Linked DNA regions of Homo sapiens: regions 1 and 3 are each linked to region 2. The links come from fine-mapping of genetic effects on gene expression. A gene starts in region 2. Each other region holds a variant in brackets. All regions are shown on one strand. Distances are from middle to middle. Region 1 has its middle 43 kb from the start of GOLM2. Region 2 holds the start of TRIM69 (tripartite motif containing 69). Region 3 has its middle 64 kb from the start of TRIM69.

Evidence for each region. PIP is the estimated chance that this variant, and not a neighbour inherited with it, causes the effect.
Region 1: its variant is fine-mapped to the expression of TRIM69 in coronary artery (GTEx, PIP 0.94).
Region 3: its variant is fine-mapped to the expression of TRIM69 in whole blood (INTERVAL, PIP above 0.99).

The regions. Positions count from the first base shown.
Region 1 is chr15:44,241,941-44,250,125 of GRCh38, reverse strand. No RefSeq gene overlaps it. Among named protein-coding and RNA genes, the nearest start is that of GOLM2, 43 kb to the left of the region's middle. The variant G/A (reference allele first, on the strand shown) is at 4,741.
Region 2 is chr15:44,732,310-44,740,474 of GRCh38, reverse strand. It overlaps TRIM69 (tripartite motif containing 69), which reads right to left and starts at 3,947. Exons shown (of 7, transcript NM_182985.5): 1 at 3,765-3,947. The coding sequence starts at 3,770. It also overlaps the pseudogene RNF4BP.
Region 3 is chr15:44,796,399-44,804,583 of GRCh38, reverse strand. No RefSeq gene overlaps it. Among named protein-coding and RNA genes, the nearest start is that of TRIM69, 64 kb to the right of the region's middle. The variant C/T (reference allele first, on the strand shown) is at 4,137.

The sequences.
Region 1 (8,185 bases), 490 kb after region 2:
TATTAAAACCTAATAGGACTTTCCAGAAGGCACAGGTCAGCCATAGGAAGCAGACTTAATTTGTGTATCATTTATATACAATTTAAATTTGTTATGAATTTTTTTTTTGACAGGGTGTCGCTCTGTCACCCAGACTGGAGTACAATGGCGCGATCTCAGCTCACTGCAACCTCCGCCTCCTGGGTTCAAGCAATTCTCCTTCTCAGCCTCCCAAGTAGCTGGGATTACAGGTGCCCACTATCATGCCCAGCTAATTTTTTGTATTTTTAGTAGAGACGGGGTTTCGCCATGTTGGCAAGACTGGTCTCGAACTCCTGACCTCAGGTGATCCACCCGCCTCAGCCTCCCAAAGTGCTGGGATTACAGGCATGAGCCACCGCATCTGGCCGAATTTTTTAAATTTCTGAAATAATTTTAGGCTTACAGAAGAGTTGCAAAGATAGAATAAACTGTTCCCATATACCCTTTATTTCACATGTTAACATCTTACCGAACCATAGTACATTTATCAAAACTAGGAAATTATCATTGGTACAATACTATTAACTACAAAATAGACTTTATTTGAATATCACCAATTTTCACTAACGCTCTTTTTCTGTTCCAGGATCTGATCTAGGATCCCACATTGCGTTTGGTTGTCACATCTCCCTAGTTTCCTTCAATTTCTGATGGTTCTTCATTCTTTCCTTGTCTTTAACTACCTTGACACTTTTGAATAGTACCAATCAGGAATTTGCTAGAATTTTCCTCAATTTGGGTTGGTCTGGATGTTTTCTCATTATTAGATTAAGTTTATAAATTTGGGAGAAAAAATATCACAGAGGGAACATGCCCTTCTCAATGCATCCTATTAGGAGTACATGCTGTTGACATGTCTAATTACTGGTGTTATTAACTTCGATCGTTTGGCTAAGGTGGTATCTGCCAGGTTTCTCCACTGTAAGGTTACTATTTTTTCTTTGTAACTAACAAATATTTTTCAGAAGATATTTTGGGGCTATGCAAATATCTGGTTTCTCCTTAACACTTTACCCATTAGTTTTTTATTTTTTAAACCAACTTTTCTTTTTCTTTCTTTTTTTTTTTGAGATGGAGTCTTGCTCTGTCACCCAGGCTGAAGTGCAGTGGTGCAATCTCGGCTCACTGCAACCTCCGCCTCCCAGGTTCAAGCGGTTCTCCTGCCTCAGCCTCCCAAGTAGCTGGGACTACAGGCGTATGCCACAACGCCCAGCTAATTTTTGTATTTTTTGTAGAGACAGGGTTTCACCATGTTGGCCAGGATGGTCTCGATTTCTTGACCTCGTGATCCGCCCGCCTCAGCCTCCCAAAGTGCTGGGATTACAGGTGTGAGCCACTGTGTCCAGCTTTTAAATGATCTTTTCTTTTCTTTTTTCATTGCTTTTCTTTTCTTTCTGTTAGAGACAGGGTCTTGCTATGTTACCCAATCTGGTCTTGAACTCCTGGGCTCAAGTGATTCTCCTGCCTCGGCCTCCCACAGAACTGGGATTACAGGTATAAGCCACCACACCCACCCTAATTAAACTTTTTGTTTGAGAATAGTTTTAGATTTAGAGAAAAGTTGGGCTGGCCTAAATAAACTTTTCATTTTAGAATGGTTTTAGATTTACAGAAAAGTTGCAAAAATAGTACATAGTAGCCATTTTCCCCTATTGTTAATATCTTCCCTGTACATTTGTCACAACTATTAAACCAACATTGATACATTAAACTATAAACTCTGTACTCTATTTAGATTTCACTACATCCACTCATTTTAACATTCAATTGATCTTGCCTGTAGCAATTACTATTGTGGTTTTCTGGTTTTTTGTTTTTGTTTTTGTTTTTTGAGATGGAGTTTCGCTCATGTTGCCCAGGCTGGAGTACAGTGGTGCAACCTCAGCTCACTGCAACCTCTGCCTCCTGGGTTCAAGCAATTCTCCTGTCTCAGCCTCACGAGTAGCTGGGATTACAGGCAGCCACCACGATGCCTGGCTAATTTTTGTATTTTTAGTAGAGATGGGCTTCACCATGTTGGCCAGGCTGGTGTCGAACTCCTGACCTCAGGTGACCCACCGGCCTTGGCCTCCCAAAATGCTGGGATTACAGGCATGAGCCACCGCACCCAGCCACTATTGTGGTTTTCTAACTGTAATTTTCTGTTTCCCTCATTTTTTCTACACTGTTAACTGGAATTCTTCTGCAAGGAACAATTGTTCCTTTTCTCCTATTTATTTATTTAGTCCTTCATTTATATCTGTGTGGACTCATAGATATTTATTATATTCTTTGGCTTATAATACTATCTATCTATCTACCTATCTATCTATCATCTATCTATCTATCTATCTATCTATCTATCTATCTATCTATCATTTTAAGAAGAGTCTAGCTGTGTTGCCCAGGCTGGAGTGCAGTGGTGCAATCTCGGCTTACTGCAACCTCTGCTTCCTGGGTTCAAGTGATTCTCACATCTCAGCCTCCCGAGTAGCTGGAATTACAGGCATGTGCCACCATGCCTGGCTAATTTTTGTATTTTTTTTTTCTAGTAGAGATGAGGTTTCTCCATGTTGGCCAGGCTGGTCTCAAACTCCTGGCCTCAAGTGATTTGCCCACCTCGACCTCCCAAAGTGCTGGGATTATAGGCGTGAGCTGCCACCATGCCGAGCCCATTATATGGTTTTGTTGATCAAATTATTCCAGCTTTTGCTATTGGGAGCTTGTTCAGGTTAGCTTCTGTGTCCCTTCGATACACTTACATCCCTTTCTTTTCTTTTTAGATCATTTTTATAAATCTACGTAGACACTGTCATCTAGGAAGCTGTTTATTAATTAAATTCTTTAAATTAATTAAAATTATATTTTTATTTAATTTTCTTCCTCAGTTGACATTTTAACTTTTTTTTCCTTATTCTTATCATCCAAACATTATAATTGTCCCAAATTACACTGAAGGATCAAGGCATGACAAATATACCAACAAGGGGGAAAGGATGGGACTTAGGTGGACAGGGCTTGTTTTTTTTTTTTTTTTTTTGGCACAAGTTACCTGACCTCTCTAAGTCTCAGTTTACTCATCTATAAAATGGGTGGTAATAGTAATAATATCTGTATCATGGACTCACAAAGATTAGATGATTAAGGTGTCATAAGATGGAAAAGTACTTTGTTAACTATAAAGTTTTATATAAATATAATAGTGTTATCTTTGTATCATAGCACAACGGCGCTGTATCCTATCCCTTTAATTATTTGATAATGGTTGTTAAGAAATTGTTTTTGTGATTACACAGAGAGGCCTATTTAAGGAATAACAATGAACAATTGAAATTGTACTAGCCAAAACACTAAGCCTGGAACCAGATTAATGTATTTACTCAGATGCAGCCTCATTTCTATGACTCCATTCATTCAGAAAACCCAAAGATTATACTGGTAATAAGCGTGACCTCTCTCTTTCAGACATAAAATGAAAGTTTTGTCTCTATTAAAATAAAAATAAGCCAGGATCAATTTTTTTTTTTCTCCAAAGCCATATAATGGTTCCTAAATCAACACAAACTATTATGTAGAAGCAATTCATGTTGAAGAGTCTGCTGATTTGCTCGGTGTCATCCTCCTGTTCATCAGTCAGGAGATTCATGGAGTACCCATTACATACGAAGAATACATGCTGCAAGCTCTACCTGGGAAGTAACAGATTTAGTATCTGCTCTTGAGGAGAATGATACCTACACTATCATTTATGGAACCTGGAGCTAAAGAAAAAAATAGTTTTAAAATGACTTTCTCAGGCTGGGCGCAGTGGCTCACGCCTGTGATCCCAACACTTTAGGAAGCAGAAGCTAGAGGATCGCTTGAGCCCGAGGAGTTCGAGACTAGCCTGGGCAACAAGGCAAAACCCTGTCTCTACAAAAAATACAAAAATTAGCCAGGCATGGTGCTGTGCACCTATAGTCCCAGTTACTTGGGAGGCTGAGGTGGGAGGATTACTTGAGCCCAGAGGCGGAAGTTGCGGTAAGCCGAGACCACACTACTAAACTCCAGCCTGGGCAACAGAGTAAGATCCTATCTCAAAAAAAAAAAAATTATTTTCTCGGCCAGGTGCAGTGGCTCACACCTGTAATCCCAGCACTTTAGGAGGTCGAGGCAGGTGGATCACGAGGTCAGGAGATGGAGTCACAGTGAAACCCTGTCTCTGCTAAAAATACACACAAAAAAATTAGCCGGGCTTGGTGGCACCCACCTGTAGTCCCAGCTACTCGGGAGGCTGAGGCAGGAGAATCCCTTGAACCCGGGAGGCGGAGGATGCAGTGAACCAAGATCCTGCCACTGCACTCCAGCCTGGGCGACAGAACGAGACTCCGTCTCCAAAAAAAGAAAAAAAAAAAAGACTTCCTCAGATCAAACTGGAATCTAAAATTTAAGTGAGTATAATAATGTTTGGGAGGCCGAGGTGGGTGGATCATGAGGTTAGGAGATCGAGACCATCCTGGCTAACACAGTGAAACTCCGTCTCTACTAAAAATACAAAAAATTTGCCAGGCGTGGTGGCAGGCGCCTGTAGTCCCAGCTACTCGGGAGGCTGAGGCAGGAGAATGGCGTGAACCTGGGAGGTGGAGCTTGCAGTAAGCCAAGATCGCGCCACTGCACTCCAGCCTGGGCCATGGAGCGAGACTCCATCTCAAAAAATAAAAAAATAAAAAATAAATAAATAATGTGAATACAAGGCTGGGC[G/A]TGGTGGCTCACGCCTGTAATCCCAGCACTTTGGGAGGCCGAGGCGGGTGGATCACGAGGTCAGGAGTTCAATACCAACCTGGCCAAGATGGTGAAACCCCGTCTCTACTGAAAACACAAAAAAATTAGCTGGGCATGGTGGCGGGCGCCTGTACTCCCAGCTACTTAGGAGGCTGAGGCAGAGAATTGCTTGAACCCATGAGGTGGAGGTTACAGTGAGATAAGATTGTGCCACGGCACTACAGCCTGGGTGACAGAATGAGACTCCATCTCAAAAAAAAAAAAATTGTGACTACAGAGATATTTATGTGGGAGCCAGGAAAGGACAGAGTGAATTGAAAACCAAGATCAACAGAGAAGTGGTTTTCCTCTTTTTTGAATGGCCTGTTTCCTTATTTCTGTCTCTCTCTTTTTGAGAGTCTGATGTCTCATTGTGCACTCAAATTTTAGTGTTTGACTTGACCCAATTCTTGATGGATAGAGAGCAGCAATGGAGACCAAATGTGTTTTACGGTGCAATGTTTGAAAGAAATTCAACATAGTATATCATTAGTACTTTAAAAAATGTTTATTAATGACAGACAGGGCCCCTTCTACGGTTTAGCAAATTTAAACTAGCCCAATAATTTATCATCAAATTTTTTGTGTATAGTAAACCCAAAATTTGGGCTAACACAATGATACCTCCAACTTCTGATTCTAGCCTCTCTCTGGGCCCTCTTCCCTCCTCCATACAGTCTTGCAGTGGCATTAGGACAGTTTATTTTAAAAGGATCTGTAATACTATCTAGAAAGCAAAGAATACAGACCAGGAACTCAAACTGATTTATCAGAGAGGGCCAGAGATTCTCCTCTCTCTCAACTCAGTTCTGTTCTCATAGGCTTTGCCCCTAGTTTTTATTATTTTCACCACAAACACTATAGGATTTGATCTTCAACTTCTCAGATTGTCTGTAATTGTCACATATCTGTCTTAGTCAGAAAAGTGACCTGTAGGCTGGGTGTAGTGGTTCATGCCTATAATTCCAGCACTTTGGGAGACTGAGGCGAGAGGATCTCTTGAGGCCAAGAGTTCAAGATCAGCCTGGGTAACATAGTGAGATTCCATCTCTACAAAAAATACAAAACTTAGCTGGGTGTGGTGACACGCGCCTGTAGTCCTATCTACTTGGGAAGCTAAGACGGGAGGATCACTTAAGCCCAGGAGTTCAGGGCTGCCACTGCACTCCAGCCTGGGCAATAGAGTGAGATCCTATCACTAAAAATAATTTTTTAAAAAGTGACCTATGGTTCACCCTTTCCTTAATTTCTATGGTTGTAGAACAGTAACCGGGCTGCACTATGACATTTCAGCACTAAGTGGAGCCAGACGCCCAACTGCCTTAAAATTTACAAATCAGCAGAAGAGTACAGCCTAGTTACCTGGAAAACCTGACTTGGCCATTGTGTTTACAGATGGACAGAGCTGGAGTTATATGGTACATCACATATATTTGAATGCCCAAGACTCAAGGAATAGATACCATGGAAATAATTACTTTAGCTCATCTCACATGGTTAAAGAAAACCTATCAAATAAACACAAACTAACCAAACTGGGTATTTTTTTGTTGCGGGGGGGGTGTTTGTTTGTTTGTTTTTGAGACAGGGTCTCTCTCTGTTGTCCAGGCTGGAGGGCAATGACACAATCTCGGCTCACTGCAACCTCCACCTGTGGGCTCAAGCAATCCTCCCACCTCAGCCTCCGGAGTAGCTGGGACCACAGGTGTATGCCACCATGCCCAGCTAATTTTTGTATTTTTTGTAGAGACAAGGTTTCACTATGTTACCCAGGCTAGTCTCAAACTCCTGAACTCAAGTGGTCTGCTTGCCTCAGCCTCCTAAAGTGCTGGGATTACAGGTGTGAGCCACTGTGCCTGGCCCCAAATTATTTTGTTATGTCATGATTCCCAACCCCTCTGCCCTTTGTTGCAAGCTTCTATAAGAAAGACATGTAGCCTCTGGTGGTTCAGATTCTGATCTGCAGATGAGAATGAGCCAATTTGGGAAAGAGCCCAGCCTAACAGAGGATTTGTGATAGCATTTGGGTGATGTTTTTGCAAGCAAATATGTGTTTGGCATAGGGACAGTTTTGCCCAGGGCAGAGTATTGAATTCTGAGAATAGGAGCCAGTTATGGGGTATGTATGTGTAGGAGGCCGATGGAGGGTTAATAGAGTCACAGATCATGGCAGTTGGGTAAAGGATGAGAAATTACTTAATGTTCAGGATCTATACCCTAGGGAAAAATAAAAAGAAATTACTTAATGGGTACAATATATGTTATTTGGGTGGTGAATACCCCGAAAATCCTGACCATTACAAAGTCTATGCATGTACTGAAATTACACTTATACCCCATGAACTTATGTAAATAAATTTTTTCTTTTTCTTTTTTTTTTGAGACAGAGTCTCATTCTGTCGCCCAGGCTGGAATGCAGTGGCTCGATCTCACCTCACTGCAACCTCCGCCTCCCAGGTTCAAGCAATTCCCTGCTTCAACCTCACGATTAGCCGGGATTACAGGCACCGGCCACCAAGCCCGGCTAATTTTTGTATTTTTAGTAGAGACGGGGTTTCACCATCTTGGCCAGGCTGGTCTTGAACTCCTGACCTCGTGATCCACCCACCTTGGCCTCCCAAAGTGCTGGGATTACAGGCATGAGCCACCGCACCCAGCCATAAATAAATAAATTTTTTCAAAACAAACAAACAACAGCAACAAAAAAAACCAGAGTCACAGATCATTCTTACCTAGAAACTCAGCACAGACTGAGCAAACCATTCAACTCTTGGGAGACCCTGAGATCCTAAGTATAAAAGATGAGCTAGGCCGGGCGTGGTGGCTCACGCCTCTAATCCCAGCACTTTGGGAGGCCAAGGCTGGCGGATCACGAGGTCAGGAGATCGAGACCATCCTGGCTAACACAGTGAAACCCCGCCTCTACTAAAAATACAAAAAAAAAAAAAAAGCCGGGTGTGGTGGTGGGTGCCTGTAGTCCCAGCTACTTGGGAGGCTGAGGCAGGAGAATGGTGTGGACCCAGGAGGCGGAGCTTGCAGTGAGCCGAGATCGCGCCACTGCATTCCAGCCTGGGCAACAAAGCCAGACTCTGTCTCAAAAAATAAATAAATAAATAAAAATAAAAAAGAGATGAGCTTCTGGCCCAGCACGGTGGCTCACGCCTGTAATCCCGCACTTTGGGAGGCCGAGGCAGGTGGATCATCTGAGATCAGGAGTTCAAGACCAGCCTGGCCAACATGGTGAAGCCCCGTCTCTACTAAAAGTAGAAAAATTAGCCAGGCATGGTGGCATGCGCTTGTACTCCCAGTTACTGGGGAGACTTGGGCAGGAGAATTGCTCGAACTGGGGAGACGGAGGTTGCAGTGAGCTGAGATCGCGCCATTG
Region 2 (8,165 bases):
TTTAACTTCTTTGCCTTTGGTTTGAATTTCCTCCTGTAGCTCGGAGTAGTTGGATCATCTGAAGCCTTCTTCTCTCAACTTGTCAAAGTCATTCTCCATCCAGCTTTGTTTTGTTGCTGGTGAGGAACTGCGTTCCTTTGGAGGAAGAGAGGCGCTCTGCTTTTTAGAGTTTCCAGTTTTCCTGCTCTGTTTTTTCCCCATCTTTGCGGTTTTATCTACTTTTGGTCTTTGACGATGGTGATGTACAGATGGGTTTTTGGTATGGATGTCCTTTCTGTTTGTTAGTTTTCCTTCTAACAGACAGGACCCTCAGCTGCAGGTCTATTGGAGTTTGCTAGAGGTCCACTCCAGACCCTGTTTGCCTGGGTATCAGCAGCGGTGGCTGCAGAACAGTGGATTTTCGTGAACCGCGAATGCTGCTGTCGATCATTCCTCTGGAAGTTTTGTCTCAGAGGAGTACCCGGCCATGTGAGGTGTCAGTCTGCCCCTACTTGGGGGTGCCTCCCAGTTAGGCTGCTAGGGGGTCAGGGGTCAGGGACCCACTTGAGGAGGCAGTCTGCCCATTCTCAGATCTCCAGCTGCGTGCTGGGAGAACCACTGCTCTCTTCAAAGCTGTCAGACAGGGACATTTAAGTCTGCAGAGGTTACTGATGTCTTTTTGTTTGTCTGTGCCCTGCCCCCAGAGGTGGAGCCTACAGAGGCAGGCAGGCCTCCTTGAGCTGTGGTGGGCTCCACCCAGTTCGAGCTTCCCGGCTGCTTTGTTTACCTAAGCAAGCCTGGGCAATGGTGGGCGCCCCTCCCACAGCCTCGCTGCCGCCTTGCAGTTTGATCTCAGACTGCTGTGCTAGCAATCAGCGAGACTCCATGGGCGTAGGGCCCTCCGAGCCAGGTGCAGGATATAATCTCCTGGTGCACCGTTCTTTAAGCCCGTCGGAAAAGCACAGTATTAGGGTGGGAGTGACCCAATTTTCCAGGTGCCGTCTGTCACCCCTTTCTTTGACTAGGAAAGGGACCTCCCTGACCCCTTGCGCTTCCCGAGTGAGGCAATGCCTCGCCCTGCTTCGGCTCACGCACGGTGCGCTGCACCCACTGTCCTGCGCCCACTGTCTGGCACTCCCTAGTGAGATGAAACTGGTACCTCAGATGGAAATGCAGAAATCACCCGTCTTCTGCATCGCTCACGCTGGGAGCTGTAGACCAGAGCTGTTCCTATTCAGCCATCTTGGCTGCCCCCTCCGTGTGTTTTTAAAGTATGTTTAAAATATATAGCGGTTACCAAGGCAGGGCAAAGAGGAACGGGAAGTGACTGATAATGGGTATGGAATTTCTTTTGGGGATAATGAAAATGTTCTGGAATTAGATAGTGGTGATAATTGTACAACTTTGTGAATATGCTATAAATCACTGAATTGTAAACTTCAAAAGGGTGAGTTATATGATATGAAAATATATTTAATGTTATTAATTATTGATATTATATGATTGACTGGTTTTATATGGTTAATTCATCTTGCTAGCTGAGGGTTTGCCAATTCCCCTGACTTTCAATAATATATCCTTTTCTGTAAAACAAGGGATTAATTATATTAGCTAATATTTACTGAGCATTCACTGTGGAAGAGGATTTACATACATTATTTCATTTAATCTCAGAACAACCCTATGAAATACGTATTATTACTACATATTTTAAGGAAACTGAAGCTCAGATTGCTTCAAGTATCTTCCCAGAGTCACAATTATTAAGTAGTGGGTCTCAGATTTGAACTCTTTATTTGACCCCAAAGCCTATTAACCACTGAGTCAGCAGAGAGCCCATCAATATGTTTTGTGGAATTGAATTTATTAAATGGATCAAATTTGTGAAGCAAAATATCTGCAATAACTTCCTACTGCTCTAGAGGGAGCTATAGAATTGGAAACCAAATGAGAGTCTAAAATTTCTGGACCTGGAAATCTTTTAGGAAACACATCTACTGCCAGCCCCTTTTAGGGGAAGAAGTCTAACCTTAAGGCAGAGAGAGAGAAACTCGAGTCAGGAATTGATATTCATCCTTATAAAGCCCTGGCTGGCAGGAATCACTTTATAAGAAAGCACATCAGCAGGTCACGATGGCCCAGGCCTGTAATCTTAGCCTCACTTTGGGAGGCTGAGGCAGGAGGATCACCTGAGGTCAGGAGTTGGAGACAAGCCTGGGTAACATGGTGAGACCTCATCTCTACTAAAAAAAAAAATAATAATACAAAAATTAGCCAGGCGTGGTGGTGCGTCCCTGCAGTCCCAGCTATTTGGGATGCTGAGGCATGAGAATCACTTGAACCCTGGAAGCGGAGGTTGCAGTGAGCTGAGATGGTGCCACTGCACTCCAGCCTGAGCAAGAGAGTGAGACTCTGTCCTAAAAAAAAAAAAAAAAAAAAAAGAAAGAAAGAAAGTATGTATCTTCCTCCTTCAGTTCACTGTGCACATTCTCAAAGAGCAGAGAAAAGGCAAAGAGCTATGAAGTCCATGGAAGCTTGCATAAGAAATCCTTAATTTTTACCAGAGATTTTTTTTTCCTGAGAAGTTTTGTGTTGTAAATTTTTGAAATCATAGTTAAGATATCTAAGGAGAGTTCATTTGTTGCTTTTCAACCTTTATTCCTTCAAAGTAATTTTTAAACTTTGATGGGCAGTTTTTATGAAGAATTAACTTTGAGAGCAGAAAAATACAGTTCATCCACAGAGACAAACTATATAGCACAGCCAGCTTAAACCTAAGAGCAAGACACACTCCTGCTTCACGAGTCAAGCCATTTGCACATAAGAAGGCAAGATTCTGAACTTTCTGACTTCTTGGAGCTTCCCAGAGTTGAAAGAAATTTTAAGCCATTTAATTCACTCCTTTCCAACCTCTGCCTGAACATCTGAAGTAATGGGAAACTCACTATCACACAAACAATTTTTTTACTATTATGGAAAAGTGTCTATTTTCACTGACTTGGCCTTAAAGTAATAAGAATATAGTAGGTTTAGGCAATAGTGTTTATTTTTGCCCTAGAAATTATAAACAAAATGCTTATAGCCCTGTTTGCTTCAATAGCTAAGCACAGAGATGAGTAGCAGCAAACCTAAAGGTCCTATGATAGAGGAAATTAGAAACTGATCTTAATGATTAATATAATGAAATTAAACTTTATAAGAAGTGGAAACTAGTGGAAATGGATGATAACTCAGGATTCAAGGGCCCCTGAAAAACCCTTAGTGAGTTTTTCAAGCTTTCATGTAGTAAATAACCATTTTCTTTTGTTTGACAATCAGGAAAACACTAAGTTCAGAAGAACATAACTTCCTTTATTTTAGCTCTGAAGAGGTCTTAAAGGAAGAATTCAATTAAAAATGTTTACTATCTAAGTATCAACTCTGCCTTAAATATAAAATAATCAAATGTGAAGGTATTGTAAGCAAACCAAGTTATACATAATAATTTTTAAATCTAAAATAAAATGATTACATTGATAATGAAAGTAAATTGTATATAGTATATAGTTTATTTTTTCTCAAAATGTTTTGGTGGATTTCATTACTTTCCTACCAGCTTCTCTAGTATAAATTATCAGTTATTCCAAGGCTTGGAGAGAGTATAGTAGCTACCAGCTGTCACAAGTTAAATACTTCCCTTCATGAATTTCCTTTTGTGCTCCTAAATCCATATCCTCTTCTATGATCCTGTTTTCCACACTATTCCTAGAAGCCCTGCTAAGTTAAAAAAAAAAAGGGTCACTCACCTCCATGAAGCTTCAGCCCACCAAGGGGCAGAGGCAGGCACTTGAATCAGAGCTCAGCAGGCCCAGGATGGCTGCAGACTGGGAGTCAGGGACCTTTTAGTTTTCAAGGAATGGGCTCAGAGCATGATGGAAGAAAGAAAAGTTCAGGAGCTGGAGAGAAGCAGCAAGGCCAGAGTGAGGTCTGGCAGATTCCGTGACAGTTTGTCAGTTAACTTTGATCATCATTTGCTTAAGAGAAAGAGAAACCCTCATTAGAATACCCTACCTGCCCAACTTTTCTTTTGTAGGAGACAAGGGCAGCTCATTTAGATTCGAGTTAGTGGTCTAATCTTAAGGTTCATAGCTCCCCATTTCTGGACTAAGGATGCTCTATGAAAGAGGAAATACACGTCAGCAGCAGCCTATATTAAGCCTAACTCATGAAAAATAACCACCTCACCCCTGTTCATGATCCCATCACACCATCAAGACACCAGCTGAGTGGCTTTAATAGAGAGCTAGTTCACCTCTCATATTCCAATGAAGCAGCCCTGATTTTATCTCTGAGACAGTAACACAGGCCTGGGAAACACCAGGCCCTAAGAAAGCAGGATGAAAAAAGCTTCATTTCATACAGCTTTCTTCAGCAGTTTTAGCTCGCAGAGAGATGTACCAACACTGTGCTCCTGAGTGACTTATAAAGAGCCACCACAGAGCCAAACAGTTTTTCTTACAGTAGTTCCTCTAACTCAATATGATTTCTTGCACGTCTAGCTCCTGCCTAGCTGTCCAGACTTAATGACCACAGCTCTTTCCCCAGTGTTTGGGATCGCCCAAATATGTCACGCTTCTGCAGCTTTGTATATGTTGTCCCTTCGGATGGGAGTTTCCCTTCCCCCACACCCCCGTCATTATCTCTTTACTAAACTCTTCCCTAACCACCCCCTCATCCCCAAACCAAGCTTTACCCACTTCCCTGTCTCTTGTAGAAGATATTTTGCTGGCTCTATACCAGAGGTTACCAACCTCAGCCCTATTGATATTTTGGGCCTGCTAAGTCTTACGTTAGAGGGGCTGTCCTGTGAATTTTAGGATATTTAGCAGTGTCCCTGGCGTTTACACACTAGATGCCTGTAGCCACCCCCCCCCCACCAAACCCAGTCATAACAAAAATGTCTCCAGTCATTGCCAAATGTCTCCTGGGGGCAGGGGTTGGAATCACTCCCCAGTTGAGAAACACAGCTTTACTCCCTTCCTTCCTTCCTTCCTTCCTTCCTTCCTTCCTTCCTTCTTTCCTTCCTTCCTTCCTTCCTTCCTTCTTTCCTCTTTCTTTTTTTCTTTCTCTTTCTTTCTTTCTCTCTCTTTCTGTTTTCTTTCTCCCTTTCTTTCTCTCTCTGTTTCTTTCTCTTTCTTCCTTTCTTTTTCCTCTTTCTTTCTCTCTTGCTCTCTTTCTTTCTTTCTCCCTTTCTTTCTCTTTCTCTTTCTTTCCTTCTTTTCTTTTCTTTTTTCTTTTCTTTCTGACAGGGTCTCACTATGTTGCCTAGGCTGATCTCAAATTTCTGAGCTCAAGCTGTCCTCCCACCTCAGCCTCACAAAGTGCTAGGATTACAGGTGTGAGCAACACCACGCCTGGCCTAGTTTTACACATTTCTATAGCACCCTAGATCTTTGTACACGTGGCTTTAACAGAGTGTATTCTAATTGTTTGATTGCATGTCTGCCCCTCCACTAAGTTGTGAACAAACCACAGGATAGGTAGTACTGTATCTTGCTCACCTTGGCAATACATGGCATTTGTTAGATCAAAACCTTTGTCAGATAAATGTCTATGAAATGCTGGTGATCACTTAGTCAAAAAAGTAATTTTGTTTCATCTTGATTGTTTTTGTTGTTGGCTAAAACATTTGACAATGCTTAGTATAGCTGATTTTACTAAAGCCAGCGCCTGCACATTTTTGAACCTTTAGCCTAGGGGTAAGAGTACTGGCCTAGAAGATGGAAGCCTTGTCTCTCACCACCAGAGCACTGAATAGCCTTAGCTAAGACATTTAACTCCTATGGGTGTCAGTTCCTCCTTCTTTAAAATGTGAATTCCTAAGACCCCCTTCTGTCTCTAGAAGCCTGTGATTCCAAATCCTATGTAGCAAGAAGTCTCAATCTTCACAAAGAGTACTTCAAGTCTTTTTTTCACTATTTAAAAACAGTGTCCAGGCATGGTGGCTCATGCCTGTAATCTCAGCACTTTGGGGGGCCAAGGTGGGAGGATCACCTGAGCCCAGGAGTTCAAGACCAGCCTGGGCAAGATGGCGAGACCCTGTCCCTACAAAAAATTTAAAAATTAGCCAGGCATGTTGGCACGTGCCTGTGGTGCCAGCTACTCAGGAGGCTGAGGTGGGAGGATCATTTGCGCCCAGGAGGTCGAGGCTGCAGTAAGCCATGATCATATCCCTGCACTCCAGCATGGTTGACAGAGTAAGACCTTGTCTCAAAAAATAAAAATAAAAAATAAAAAAATTCCATTGCTGTAAACGAGACCCAGAGTGATGGTTAATTTTGTATGTCAACCTGACTAATATACCCAGTATAAAAGTTGCTTAAGCAAGAATGAAATTTATTTCTCTCTTAAGTAAAAGTCCAAACTTCTATAGTGGCTCTGGTTTGCAAAGTTGTCAGTCTCCCAAATTCCTTCTCTCTACTTTGTTAACACAGAACTCACAACATCCATAAATTTGGAGAGGAGACTTTATTTCTTATAAAGCGTTAAAGGCCTGCAAGGTGGCCATCCCACAGGCCAGGAAGTACAATCTCTGGCAAAGACCAGAGACAGGCACTTCAAAGGAGGAGCAGGGGTAGGAACTTGATGCTGAATAGGTTGGCTAAACATACATATTCAACAGGTTACAGGAGGAGCTATGAATAATTATGAAGGTCATCCTGACTCATGCTTATTGAACAAACATGCATGTAACATACAACCCATGTTCACTTTGAGGTGGAGACTTAACTCTTTTTGTTGTTGTTATTGTTTGTTTTTTGTTTTTCGCGACGGAGTCTTACTCTGTCACCCAGACTGGAGTGCAGTGGCGCCATCTCAGCTCACTGCAATCTCTGCCTCTGAGGTTCAAATGATTCTCCTTCCTCAGTCTCCCAAGTAGCTGGGATTACAGGCGTGCACCACCACACTCAGCTAATTTTGTATTTTTAGTAGAGACGGGGTTTTGCCATGTTGGCCAGGCTGGTCTCAAACTCCTGACCTCAAGTGATTCACCCACCTCAGCCTCCCAAAGTGCTGGGATTACAGGCGTGAGCCACCACGCCAGGCCTAAGGTGGAGACTTAACACTTAAATGCATAACAATTAGACCCTATAAGTCAAAATGCCTGTTCAGGACAGGAAGGAACAAGGGTGCTTAGCCTCTATAAACTGGCCAGAACCAGCCCATAGTCAGTGGTCTTCTTATCAAGAGAAAGTGGCTGGGTGCGGTGGCTCACGCCTGTAATCCCAGCCCTTTGGGGGGCCGAGGCAGGCAGGTCACAAGGTCAGGAGATGGAGACCATCATGGCTAACACGGTGAAACCCCATCTCTACTAAAAATACAAAAAAATTAGCGGGGCGTGGTGGTGGGTGCCTGTAGTCCCAGCTACTTGGGAGGCTGAGGCAGGAGAATGGCATGAACCCAGAAGACAGAGCTCACAGTGAGCCGAGATCGGGCCACTGCACTGCAGCCTGGGCGACAGAGCAAGACTCTGACTCAAAAAAAAAAAAAAAAAAAAATTGCTTATCTCAGCTGGTGCTTGTTTAGCTGCTAAACAAAAAGAAAAACTGACAGGGCAGAACTCCGTCTCAAAAAATAAATAAATAAATAAATAAATAGAAAATCTTGTGGCAGTTAGAACATAGTTTATTCTTTAAGTGTAGGAGTGCATGACATAACACTTGCCTGGCATGACCTTAGATCTTACGAATAATTTGTTATTGCCACAAAGGGTCTATTCTGTCAGCCTTATGATCTTTATTTTGACATTAATGCTGGTCAGTTGTTGTGTCTAAACCATAAAAGAGACGGAGATATAATGAAGCGTGTCTGACCTCCCATCCCGTCATGGCCAGGAACTCAGTTTTAAGGTTTTTCTGGGGTCACTTTGGTCAAGAGGGGTTCCATTCAGTCAATTAGGGGGCTTAGGATTTTAGTTTACAACTTACTTCACCATCTCTAGGGTGTTGTCTTTATTTATGTGGTCCAGAATGTCCACATGTGGCCAACTAAAAATTGATGACTATAAGAAAGGGAAAGTTGCTTTAAGGACGACCCCAGTATCTGGCACACTCTGGCAACTGAAGTCCAGAGCTGAAGCATAAAACCAAAGGAAACAAAAAGCAGTCTCAGAGCATATGAGAAATCAAAGAGTTTCTTATATACTG
Region 3 (8,185 bases), 64 kb before region 2:
CACTTCTGTTGTTTTCCTAAGTAACCAGTATAAATCCTTCTTTGTCATCCTCGTTGCACTTCCATGTATTGTTCCTCTTATCTCACTGTCCTGAGATTGTTTTCATCTCTGCCTTCCCCTGGGATTTCTGAATCAGCATCAAAGAATCCTGGAAGTACCTAACAGGACATGTAACTGCCCCTAAGTCATGAGCTCCTGTTGGTAGAAACTATAACTTGTTTGTTTTTGAATCTCAATACTATTTCACACCATATTGGCATAGAGGACCCAATAGATGATAGTTGGACAGAAGTAAAGTCACTCTGCAGGGCAGAGGCACAAGCTCAGAGAGAATTTATTTCCTCCCCATCTTTTCTCCTGGAAGTCCTCCTTCTCACAGTGTTCCTGCTCCCTGGCACTGAGCTGAGGTATGCAACGAAACCCATGGGACCTGTCTGTATAATGGAGATGCATACACCCTCCAGGCCTTTGCACATAGGCTAGGTCCCTGTAGCACATCTGGAGGACAGGGTCACTGAGGCCTGGCTTAATTTAGCTGAGCCACTCCAGGAGGAATAATGGTAGCACTGAAAGTCTACTTTTCTGCCCATTCTGTTAACATCCTGCTGGCCTGCTTTCTGGGGCTCTTGACTTTGTAGCAACCAAAAGACCTTTTCAGAGACTTGGGGCCTGATCAAGACCATTGAGCAAATCCTCCTTCCCTTTACCAGTGGAGCAATCAGAAGGGTGAAGGGCCTGGAAGAGCAATAGAGCATCAAGCCAATTGGAGTTCAATTACTGGCCCTGCCATGTAATGGCAGAATAAGCTTGGGGTCGTCATTTAACTTCTTTAACACTCAATTTTTTTTTCCACCAGTGAAAGGAGAACAAGAAAACTTATAGCATCATTGTGATGGTTAAAGTAACATATTTAAAATGTCTTTCATGGGGATTTCAATCTTTTATTGACCATATTTGTTGGCAGTCTAGTGAAGGCTATGGGCTCCTAGAACAAGTACTTGAAACTCATAAAACAAAATATGTGGAATTACAAAGGTAACACTATAATACATTTATCAAAATGTTTTTTTAAAATGTGTGTTAGAATGTAATATGTTTCTTTGTTCATGTATTAAAAATTAAGAGATTAAGCTGAGGGTCTGATAACTACGATAATTTTGAGGTAAAGAAGCACATAAATGATATTTTGATTTACCTGCCAAACTGTAACACTGTACATGAAAATATCTCATTTCTATTGTTGGCAAAATCACATTGTGGGTTTATAACCTACATTTGTAAATGAAGAAAATGCCAACTACTTGTTAAAGAGTGAAAATAAAGATGAATTTTATTCCTTCCAAGTTGATGGAACCCTGAACCTCTTGCTTAATGAAAAAACAAACACTTGATAGTAGTTAATTCCCTTTCTTCTAATTTTCTCTTTCTGATGCCTCCTCTTATATACTGTTTTCAAATTTTTTTACGTCTTCCTAACCAAACATGACCCGAGGAAAGGGTCTGACATCAGACATTTGGCCTATGGGGTGGATAAGTGTGTATTTCCTTGCTTTCCTTCTCAAGAGCTTTCCTCATTGTGAAAGAAGCGGAAGGAATTTCAGCATAGGAGCAAGGTGGACCTCCCCAGCCCCCAGGAAAAAAAGTCATATCACAAAGGGAGCAGATGAAATACTTTCCCAAACTTCGGGCTAGTGTCAAGGATCAGCTGTCGACTTGATTTCTAACCACTATCCTGGGTGGCTTGCCTTTCTCCTGAGTGATCAGGGTACAGAAGCCCGGAGAAACAGGACTCTGCTCCTTTTGGTCCTGCTTTGGTTCCTGCTCTGTTCCTGCTGTATTAGGGTGAAAGCCCATTGAGTGTGTCTCTTCCCAACTCTGTTCCATGATGTCTTATTTGTAACTTGAAACAAGCGTGGTGGGAGCATTTACACCATGGAAATTGGCACATGATACACATCAAGGCTTCTCACCTCTAATTAAAATCTTTCCTGCATCTCAGTGGAAAGCCAGTTGTGAGACATTTGTCAGTGCATCACTGCCTGTACCTTCTGCTTCCTGTTTGGTAATTCTGCTTTGACAAAATTGGTCATTCTTTCTGTTTACCACTCTCTGGTGCATGCACATTTTTGTATCCCCAGAAAGGGACTTTCTATACTTCTAGTGTTCCCTGATTTTGCACTGGAGTCAGCAGATGACAACAATTTTTCTCTTTGCCAAAACCTAAAAGAAGGACCCCACTTCCCTGCTTGGTGAGAGGGTTTTCCTTGTTCATGGTTTTCTGTCATTGAGGCTAAACAAGCAGGAGCCATTATAACTTGTGATAAGAAACCATAAAAAGTACAGGTGATTTAGGATAAATGCATCTGACAGGGGTGTCAAGCAGGAGTCAGCAACTTTCTCTAAAAGGGCCAGATAGTACATACTTTAGGCTTTGCAAAAGACACAAAATGATATTATGTAGGTGCTTATATAACTGTTTAAAACATAACCATGTAAAACTATTCTTAGCTTATCAACTATGAATAAACAGGCATTGGTCTATGAATAAACTGTTTGGCATTGGTCTGTGGGCTGCAGTTTTCTGATTGCAGTGGAAGTCTGACTGTTGTGGAAGACTGACCTGGGGGATGAGCAGTAAGGCAAGGTGGTCAGGTAGGAGGGTGGTAGATAAAAAAGACCAGGACAAAGTCTTGGATGGTCACAGTGGGGAAGAAGGAAGGAGGAGGAAGAAACTAGAGGGAACTTAAATATCTGATTGGATATGATGGATAAGTGAAAGATGAAGCAAATGTGATCTGGAGAGCTGGCTGCAATTTGTAACGTTGTCTTTGGGATTCACAAACATATTAGGATATTAAAAGCTTTGAAAATTCCTGCAGCAAGTAAATCTGTCTGCTCAGTCCAGCATTTCTCAAAGTTATTTATATATTGTACCCTTCATTCATGGACTACCTACTAATGCCCCCAGTGAAGTAACGTATCATGGAATGTACTTTAGGTTTCATGGGCTTGCTCTATAGTTGCGTAATCCATGTTGTAAGAGTGTGTGTTCCTTGAAAAGAGAGTTAACAAATTTACCATTTGTGTGCGTGTTTGTGGGGGAGGGTTATGAAATATGAAATACAACTCCTGTGGAAGGTGGTATATTACAAATTAATGTAATCTGAATGGCTGGAAGAATTACGCAGAGATTCAACAGGCCAGATTGGTTTAATAGTTTTTAAGTTATGGATATAATTAATGAAAATTGAGAGTGCTAATAGTTGTTTTTAAACTATTTTAAACTAAAAACAACTACAGTTTTGTCTTGTTTTTTAATTATACTTCAGGTTTTAGGGTACATGTGCACAACGTGCAGGTTTGTTACATATGTATACATGTGCCATGTTGGTGTGCTGCACCCATTAACTCGTCATTTAGCATTAGGTGTATCTCTTAATGCTATCTATCCCTCCCCACTCCCCCCATCCCACAACGGGCCCCGGTGTGTGATGTTCCCCTTCCTGTGTCCATGTGTTCTGATTGTTCAATTCCCACCTATGAGTGAAAACATGCGGTGTTTGGTTTTTTTGTCCTTGTGATAATTTGCGGAGAATGAAAAAACAGTAAATTCACGTGGCCCTTTAAAACCTTCATTTTCTTTTCTTTTTTTATTTTTCTTTTATTCTCTCTCTCTTTTTTAAAATTTTAAGTTCCAGGGTACATGTGCAGGATGTGCAGTTTTGTGACATAGGTAAACGTGGACCATGGTGGTCTGCTGCACCTATCAACCCATCACCTACGTATTAAACCCAACATATATTAGCTATTTTTCCTAATGCTCTCTCTCCCCCTTCCCTCTCCCCCACAGGCCCCAGTGTGTGTTGTTCCCTTCCCTGTGTCTATGTTAAAACCTTCATTTTCAATCTTTTCAGTATGGTTCTTTTATTTATCTGTCTTTGAATCCTCCTTAACAAAATTAATTGTTCCTTTTTTATTTATTTATTTTATTATTATTATTATTATTTTTTTAGATGGAATCTCGCTCTGTCGCCCAGGCTGCAGTGCAGTGGCACAATCTCGGCTCGCTGCAAGCTCCGCCTCCCGGGTTCACGCCATTCTCCCGCCTCAGCCTCCCGAGTAGCTGGGACTACAGG[C/T]GCCCGCCACCACGCCCAGCTAATTTTTTGTATTTTTTAGTAGAGGCGAGGTTTTACCATGTTAGTCAGGATGGTCTCGATCTCCTGACCTTGTGATCCACCTGCCTTGGCCTCCCAAAGTGCTGGGATTACAGGCGTAAGTCACCGCACCCAGCCCATTTTTTTGTTTCAAAAAAATTTTTTTTCTAAGATACTTTTGTTATAGCATACTCCTTTCTTTTTAAAAAATCCACAGCAATTTTTATATATCTCTTTTAGCACTTCAGATTGCATAGGGTTTATCTGGGTATTCTCATGGTTTGTTGGACTAAATTAGTAGAAGACACTTATATTTCTTTTCCCAGTCCTCAGCAGAATGCCAGACATATCATATGTTCTCTTGGATTAATAAATTAATAAAAGTTTTGGGAAAGTGACCATTCCAACCTATATCTGAAATACAAATAAAGTTAGATCCTGTATCCATCAAGGTCCAATCAGGAAAACAGAAACCATTCCAGTTATTTTAACAGGGATAATTTAATATAGGGAATCGAATTGCTAAACAGGTATTTAGAAAACTATAACTCCAGAAAGATATGCAAACTACAGGAAATATCTTCCACCGTTAGAACAGGGGAGCAAAGGGTAGAGTGGATTAGTTGAACCTAGAAGCTTGGATGAAGAGCCCCATAAAGTTGAGAACAAGACCACGGAGCAGGAGGTGCCACCTGGCTGGTGCTGGTGTCTCTGCAGGGACTCCAATGAGGCTGATTCTGGAAATTAGAAAAAAAAAAAAAAAGACCTAGACCCAAATGCTGCTGCTAGGGTGAAGAACTATTGCTGAGGGGATGTTGACAGACACAGAAAGCAAAGAGCAAGGGGCAAATCCCTTTGCCATCCTCTAGGTTTGCAGTCTTCCTCTAATACCCTTTATTGGCAGAGCCTAACAGGAAACCAGATGGCAAAGGATAAATTTTATTTGTGGAGTCCAGCCTCAAAATCATGTAACAGAGTAACAGGTGAGTGGGTGGTGCTAAGATACAGTAGCTTAATAACCAGCCTAGTTCCCAACCTACATGTATAGTCAATTTCCAAGTGGCCTGACTCTGGATGACTCAAGAGGGCTTTTCCTCCTCCCAAGAGCTATTATAGTCACAGGTATATTTTTGAATCTTTCCTTTTTTTCTTAGACAGCAGAAGCTGTTCATTTTAGTAGAGAATATCATGGTTGTAATTGCATTTCTCTTATAACTCAGAAAGGGTTAAATAAAGAGAAAAGATATTTTGGCAAAGAGCAAAACTATTTGGCAACTTGTTCTAAAGGGTTTTTCAGCGTCCCTAGATTCAGCTGTTTCTAATCCTGTGATTATATGCTTCAATTTCCCATTTTAAGTACCAGAGATTAAGTGGTAACTCCTTTATTGCTGATGGCGGTGCTTAGTGGACAGCTGGGGGATGACAGGGCTGTGTGCTGAATCCAGATGCACAAGAAACAACAGGAAAGGGGCACTCTGACCGTCCAATGGCCCTGTCTCCTGAGGGGGGGTAAGGTGAGGCTTCTGTTTAGATGTCTCAGTGGTCACTGCAGAATCAGCTTTTTCTTTTCTTTTTCTTTTCTTTTTTTTTTTTTTAACAGATTAAACAGTTCCAGTGTGGAAGTCTGACTTAGGGCAATGTGTGTAGTGTGAGGAAAAAGGATGACAGCTGGTTTTGAATCCAGCTCAGTCACTTGCCAACTGGGTGGCCCTGAGTAGTCACTTCACTCAACTCTTCACTTTATCATTGATAATAACTACCTGTCCTGTCCTCTTATTTGGCTCACTTTGAGGATCAAAAGAGATATGACTAAATATGAAAACATATTGCAAAGAGTAAAATGAAATAAAAACAAGGAATCGATCATGATGGTGTTGGGCTATTTCAGTTTGCTTGGTTTTTGACTCAGAAGCATGAGAGAAATACATTATCCCCAACAATTCCTTTCTGTTATAAAAAAGTTACAGTGTGTACCTTTCTGGGCTTGTGTTGTGTATTTACTTCCACATAAATGTTTATCTCTAAAGTTATCAATAAAGCTCCCAGTGTGGAAGTGAAAATAAACCCAGAAAAAATATCTTTGTATTCCCAGGCCAATTCAGTTTTCATTATTTATTATATTCAGTTTTTCTTGAGGCCAAAATGGAGTAGAAATCTCTAAAAAATTTAGTTTGAATCTAGAGTCAACTAATAATAATACTAGTTAAAGCAGTAATAGCATTTATTACATGCTTGTGTGCTGGAAACTTTTAAGCATCTATACTGTGTTGCCTCCTTAAAATAACCCTATGAGGTAGATTTTGTTTTTATTGTCATTTAATATAAGGAAATGAAGGCATAATAAAACTCGCCTAAGGTTACAGATAGAAAATAATGGAGTAGGGGTTTGAACCCACATAACGTGATTTCTAAGTCTGAACCTTTAGCTACTCTATTATATTCAAGAAACACTCCTTGTTTAATTATTTGTATAAATTAAAGTTGTCTCTCAATGGCTTTTATTTGTTACGTAGAAATATCATTTATTAAGCACATACAAGGTGCTGGATAGGATTCTAAGCATTCTCTATGCATTATCTTATTTAATTCTCACAAAATTTTATTATTCTTAGAAACTAAAGTTCAGATAATTTAAGCAATTTGCTCAGTCAGGTTCACACTTTTAACAAGTACTGAAGCTGATATTTTAGTTCAAGTCTACATGACTGTCAAATCTCTTCAAGCAATAAGTTACGTATCTCTTTGCTAACAATATATATTCTTCCTGTTTCTCATGGAGGCATCCCTCAAACTTCTCCAAACCTCAGTGTAAAGCTCAAAACAATGGAAAAGCTGAAATAAAGCTAAATGAAGATCAGAAATCATGCAGTGTCAGCAGTAGGAATATATACTAGGAGTCTGGAGTGAGGGGTAATGAAATGGAGCCTAATGCTCAAACTTTGAAATTCTTAAAAGACAAGACAGAAAAAGGGAAATCCAATGGTTTGTCTAGTTATTATTGTCAGACGAAAACACATAGACCAGTTGTGTAGAAGACATAAACTTCCCCTGACATTCAAAGCCAAGAGAAATTTATCATGAGAAGTCTTATATTTGGACAACAGTTATAGTATATAGGGAATTTCTGCCATAAACAGCATGGTGTAAATGAATACTTGGTGAAAGATATCAATTAGAATTTATACCATATGTGAGACAAGGCATTTCCAAAGTGCATTTGCAGGAGAATGTGTTGTATTCATCTCTGACATCCTTATCAGAACTCACATTCTAGTGAAACATATCAATTAATGTCCTCAGATCTGTTATAATAACAACATGGAAAATGGATTTACCAACCTCACAGAAACAACTGAAGGTATGTGCCAAGAATGAATCTCTTACTTCTTCAAATATCAGAGTAAAAATTTTACAACAAACTTAAAATTTGTTAAACTTCAACTTAATGGATGGTCTCTCTTTCCTTCTTGCAAGGTCTGACTGAGATCTAAGCCTTGCTCATTAATTTATTCATTTAGCATTTAATTTGGTCCCATATTAGTTAAGCCTCAGGCTTGACTAGCACCCAGGTAAATGAAAAAAGGAACAAAAACTTGATCCAGAACGCACTGGATATCAATGGCTTGTAGTCCTCTCATGGACTTCAAGTGTGACTAAGTCAGCTGAGCCCTTACTTGTTAGTGTTGTGCTGGAACAGACAGAGAGAAAGTAATTGTAAATCATCCAAGAAGTGAGAAAGAGATAGAGATACAATCAGGAGACAAGTCTGAATCTCTGAGATAGACTGGTAATGTCTCAAGGCCACTGAGATAATGATGCCTAGAACTGGGCTTATAAATGCCAATAGCATAACATTCTTGAGCTTGGGACAGTGGTGCTTTAGCAAACAATAACCTCTCCTACTTAGTCCAGATATTTAAATTCCTCATGTGGCATCACTTGATGGATAAAATTGCAAATAAGCAAGTTAAGGATAAATTGAGAGGCCCATTGGATCCTGGCCATGGGTACAGATGTATGATCATGGCCAG